Linked DNA regions of Homo sapiens: region 2 is linked to region 1. Evidence: fine-mapped expression QTL. A gene starts in region 1. The other region holds a variant in brackets. All regions are shown on one strand. Distances are from middle to middle.

What was found. PIP is the estimated chance that this variant, and not a neighbour inherited with it, causes the effect.
Region 2: its variant is fine-mapped to the expression of NBL1 in whole blood (Lepik 2017, PIP 0.95).

Annotation. Positions count from the first base shown.
Region 1 is chr1:19,643,179-19,645,678 of GRCh38, reverse strand. It overlaps NBL1 (NBL1, DAN family BMP antagonist), which reads right to left and starts at 1,368. Exons shown (of 4, transcript NM_005380.8): 1 at 1,233-1,368. The region is part of intron 1 of MICOS10-NBL1 (MICOS10-NBL1 readthrough); the gene reads right to left. RefSeq lists a silencer at 1,283-1,622 and an enhancer at 1,521-2,356.
Region 2 is chr1:19,586,561-19,589,568 of GRCh38, reverse strand. No RefSeq gene overlaps it. Among named protein-coding and RNA genes, the nearest start is that of MICOS10-DT, 8.8 kb to the left of the region's middle. The variant G/T (reference allele first, on the strand shown) is at 1,980.

The DNA of each region.
Region 1 (2,500 bases):
GCCCCAACTCAAGGCAAACCACGCCCAAGCAGCCCCAGCATCTGGGGGAGTCTAGGGAGGCCCCATTCCGCAGTAACAAAGGGTGAGGGGCTCCTTGTTGACAAATTGCTTCCCCGCCAGCGCCCGGTCTTTGGCCTCCAGCCCTGACCTCTGTTTTCCTGGGGTGCCCCTAGTTACAGGCTGGTGGCGTCCAGCTTGGGGAGCGAGGGCCTCCGAAAGCCTGGAAGTGTGGCTTTCTCCCTTGATGCCCGCCAACCTCCGGCCACGCCAAGGCAGGCGGCTGCCCCCTTTGCCGCCGCTTGTAAACGATCAGAATCGCCCCGCCCTGGGAGCGGGCCGGGCAGGTGGCCCGCAGCAGGGCCTGTCGTCCAGCCGGCCTCGCGGGGGTGGAATTCTTAAGAAAACTGAGCCCCCGGAAAGGCTGGCTCTCCCTGCCCCAGACTCAATTCCAGGGAGATGACCCGGGCCAGGCCTCGGGGCCGGCGGGAGGCAGGGGGAGGGTTTGCCGCACCCGGTCTAGGAAACTATTCGTGAACCCCGCTGGGGGAAGGCGAGCCTCCGACACTGGGGGATTGTCTGGATCGGAGGGCGGGGGATCAGGGAGAGGCGCAGACACAGGGCGAGACCCCCACAGAGGGCAGCGCAGAGACAGAGAGAGGGAGAGAAAAGCCAGAGGCAGAGACACAAACGCGGGCAGCCGAACACGGAGGCAGGCGGGGAACGGAAAGAGACGGGCAGACCAGGGGAAAGTGAGCGGCGGAAACGGAGCGACGGAGAGACAGACACACGGACGTGGGGACCGAAGCAGAGGGGGCCGCGGGAGGCGGAAACGTCCAGAGCCGAGAGGCGCGGCGCGGCGAGGCCCGGGCACGGCCGGGGGACATGCGAGCCCGGCCCGCCCGGCCACGCATCTCCCTCCCTCGCTCCCTCTCTCCCCCGGCCGCGGAAACTCCGATCCAGAAACGGAACCCTGGGGCGAGTCTGGGGACGGGCTCCGGACGCGGCGGTGCCCCCCGGCCACCCCGTGCCGCGCCCACGTCCCCAGCGCCGGCGTCCGGAGGCGCCCGCCAGGTCCCCCAGGGCTCCTGAGCTCGGCGGCGGCGCCTCCACCCGGTGCCCGCGGCCGCCGGACGCGCCGGGGGACGCAGCTCCGGGCTGGGGGCGCGGCACTGCCCCCGCGGCCGAAGCCTCTGGAAGCCGGGCGCCCGCGTGCCGACCCGGGCGGGACTTACCGCGCGCGCCCGCCGGTCCTGCGGAGCTGGGTGCGGGGGTCGCGGGCCCGGGCGCCCCAGGAGGCTCGGCGAGGCGGCCGGCAGGGCGGGGGGCGGCCCCGCGACGCTCGGCTGGGCTGCGCTGCGCGCTGTCTGCGGCCCCGGGCGGGCGCGCGGCGCGGGGGAGCGGCTCCGACGTCAGGGTGGCTCCCTCCAAACAGGGCGCGAGGGCGGGGGCAGCGGGGAGGGCCGCGCGCAGAAAGAGCGGGCGGGCGCGCGCGGCCTCTCCCTCCGGGTGCGCAGGAGGGGGCGCCGCGGCGGCAGGGGCCCCGGGCCCTCTCCTGGCCCGCCCGCCCCGGGCTGAGCTTCGGCGCGCTCCGACGGCGTGGTGGGGCGGCCGGGACGCCTGGCCGGCGCCCGAGAGGCAGGGCAGCCCAGCCGGGCGCCCTGGCCCGTTCTTAAGCGCCCTCCCCGGGTTTCTCTGCGCTTCCACTCTCTCCGCCCGACTTTTACCGAGCCTGGGCCGTCAGGCCGTGCCAGGCCTCGGGGTGACAAAGATGGATGTGTCCTTTTTGTGGGCACCGGGCATTGCAGACTTGCCCCGAGAGTGGGGCGCCCCAGCCCGCCGCGTCCCGGCACCAGGAGTCCCCAGTTCTGCGGTGCACCTCATCCCGTCCGCTCCGGCATGCGACCCGGTTCAAGTCCGTGCTGTTGGTAGCCTGGGTTGCTCAGCCTTGCCTAGTGTTATCCTAGTGTCGCTCTCGGCCCCACGCCCTTGGCTTAAGCATCCCGAAAAGCCCCAGGGACTTATTAGGAACTAAAAAGCCAGCAAATGAACTCACTTCTCTGACTCCTGGGAAGAGTGGAGCTCCTGGCCCCAGCTTCCAGCCTCACCTCGGGGGTTCCTATCTAATCAGTGGGCACTTGGGTGGATTGCGGCCGTACCTTCTCTATTCTGTGTGCTTAACAACGGGGTGAGAAAATAACTTTGCTTCTGGAAAGTGGTGGCCCAGGGACACCACTGGGACACGATTGTAGGACTTGGGGATTTTGCTTTACAGCATAGTTACCTGTGTCCATGTGTTTTACCTAGCTTGGCTGGAAACTTCCAGATAGACACAGCCCTGCTTGTCTGACTCATGAGGTTGCCGGGCATCCTGGGTGGCTCCTAGTGGCCTGCTGGGAACTCCCTGGTGTACTCCAGCCTACTCGCACCCTCCACACCCAGCCTGCATCTGCGCCTCCTAGCTGTTGCCTGCGCCCTTCCCTCTGCCCGGAATTCCCTTCCC
Region 2 (3,008 bases), 56 kb after region 1:
GCCTCCCAAGTAGCTGGAACCACAGGTGGTGCATGCCACCATCCCTGGCTAATTTTTATATTTTTTTTGTGTGGAGACATGGTTTTGCTATGTTGCCCAGGCTGGTCTCGAATTCCTGGGCTCAAGGGATCCACCATTCTCAGCCTCCCAAAATGCTGGGATTACAGGTGTGAGCCACCACGCCCGGCTCAATGGGCATATATTTTTATAGAATATGTAAGTCAGGAGGGCGATAGGGTATGTATACCTTCAGCTTCACTTGATACTGCCAAACTTTATCCCAAAGTGATTGTACCAATTTACATTGTCCCCAGCAGCATATGACCATTCCTGTTACTCCATGTCCTCACCAACAGTTAGGCTGTAATGATACTTTAGTATTGTTGCCAGTCTGGTAGGTGTCTGCTAGTATCTCATTGGGGTAGTGCTTGCTCTTTCCTGTGAGTGAGCTACTAGTCATGTACTCTGAATATATAATGTAGCAGGACTGGGGGATTCCAATCAAATCAAAGAGGCCCTGAAAGAGAAGGGAAATTGACAGAGACATTTTGCTAAAGTGATGCCTTGCCAACTTGAAGAAGGTGTGCTGGGTTCAATAGTGTCCCCCCAAATTGATGTCCTTCCTAGAACCTCACAGTGTGGCCTCATTTGGAAATAGGGTTGTTGAAAATGTAATTAGTTGGCTGGGTGCGATGGCTCATGCCTGTAATCCCAGCACTTTGAGAGGCCGAGGCGGGCAGATCACCTGAGGTCAGGAGTTCGAGACCAGCCTGGCCAACATGATGAAACTCCTCTCTACTAAAAATAGAAAAATTAGCTTGGCATGGTGGCTTAGCTTGGCATGGTGGCAGGCGCCTGTAATCCCAGCTACTAGGGAGGCTGAGACAGAAGAATCACATGAACCCAGGAGGCAGAGGTTGTAGTGAGCCGAAATTGCACCACTGCACTCCATCCTGGATGACAAAAGCAAAACTCTGTGTCAAAAAAAAAAAAGTAATTAGTTAAAATTAGGCCAGGTGCTGTGGCTCACACCTATAATCCCAGCACTTTGGAAGGCCGAAGTGGGAGGATCACTTGAGTCCAGGAGTTTGAGACCAGCCTGGGCAATATAGTGAGACCTTGTTTGTACAAAAAATGTTAAAAATTAGCCAGGCGTGGTGGTGCATGCCTATAGTCCCAGCTTCTTGGGAAGCTGAGGTGGGAGGATCACTGGAGCCCAGGAGGCAAGGGCTGCAGTGAGCTAAGATCACACCACTACTACTGCACTCCAGCCTGGCGATAGTGAGACCCTGTCTCAAAAAAAAAAAAAAAAAAAAAAAGATTAGCTCATACTGGAGTGAGATGCACACTAAACCAAAAAGACTGGTGTCCCCATAAGAAAAGAAGAAGAAACACAAAAACAGAGAAGATGACCCTGTGACAACACAGGCAGATAATTTGGCTTATGTGGATATAAGCCAAGGAAGACCACGGATCGCCAGCAAGCACCAGGCGCCAGAAGAAAGGCATGGAACGGATGCTCTCTCTGAGTCCCCTGAAAGGAATCAGTCCTGCTGACGCCTTGACTTTGGCCTTCCAGTCTTTGGAACTGAGAAACACTATAATTCTGTTGTTTCAAAGCCACCAGTTTGTGGTCCTTTGTTATGACATCGTGAGAGAACTAACACAGCAGGGAGCACACTGGATTGAAGATCATGAGAGCTGCACCCCAGTCTCCACTCTGCCGTTAACTGCTGGTTCTGCACATGTAGTCATGCCTGTCTTACCAGGTGGGCCTTTCTGTGGACTCACCTCTTTAGATTCGTTCTTTCTTTTTTTTTTTTTAAGTCAGAGTCTCACTCTGTTGCTCAGGCTGGAGTGCAGTGGCATGATCTTGGCTCTCTGCAACCTCCGCTTTCCAAGCTCAAGCAATTCTCCCACCTCAGCCTCCTGAGTAGCTGGGATTACAGGCATAAGCCACCATCACACCTGATTTTTTT[G/T]TGTGTGTGTGGAGACCGTATTTTGTCATGTTGCCCAGGCTGGGCTCAAGTGATCCCCTGCCTCAGCCTTCCAAAGTGCTGGGATTATAGGCATGAGCCACCAAGCCCAGCCTCTTCAGATTCCTGTATAGTAAGTCATGTACCGCATAATGCCGTTTCTGTCATCTGCAATCTAATGGTGGTCCCATAAGATTATAATACTGTATTTGTACTGTACTTTTTCTGTGTTTATATATGTTTATGGCCAAGCGTGGTGGCTCACGCCTGTAATCCCAGCACTTTGGGAGGCCATGGCGGGTGGATCACCTGAGGTCAGGAATTCAAGACCAGCCTGGTCAACATGGTGAAAACCCGTCTTTACTAAAAATACAAAAATTAGCCAGTCGTGGTGGTGCATGCCTATAATCCCAGCTACTCGGGAGGCTGAGGCAGGAGAATCACTTGAACCCAGGAGGTGGAGGTTGCAGTGAGTAGAGATGGTGCCACTGTACTCCAGCCTGGGCGACAGAGTGAGACTCTGTCTCAAAACAAACAAAAAAACAAACAAAACTGTATTTTTACTGTACTTTTTCTATGTTTAGATATGTTTAGGTACACACTTTCTATTGTGCTACTATTGCCTGCAGTATTCAGTACAGTAACACGTTGTACCGGTTTGCAGCCTAGGAGCAATAGGCTCTGCCATAGTCTGGGTGTGTAGTAGGCTGGAGCATGAAGTACACTCCATGATGTTTGCATGACGACAAGGTCGCCTAACAGCGTGTTTCTCAGCATATATCCCTGTGTTTAAGTGACTCATGAATGTGCTTGCTGCCTCCCCTTGGACCTTCGGGCCTAAGGCTGGGAAGGGCTCCCACTGTTACTAACTCTAGGGTACTGCACCATTCCTCGCTGCTTGTAAATAGCCCTTTTATTAAACTCTCATCCATTTTTCACCTTTATTTATCTTTTTTTTTTTTTTTGAGATGGAGTCTTACTTCATCACCCAGGCTGAAGTGCAGTGGCACCAGTGGCACCATCTTGGCCACT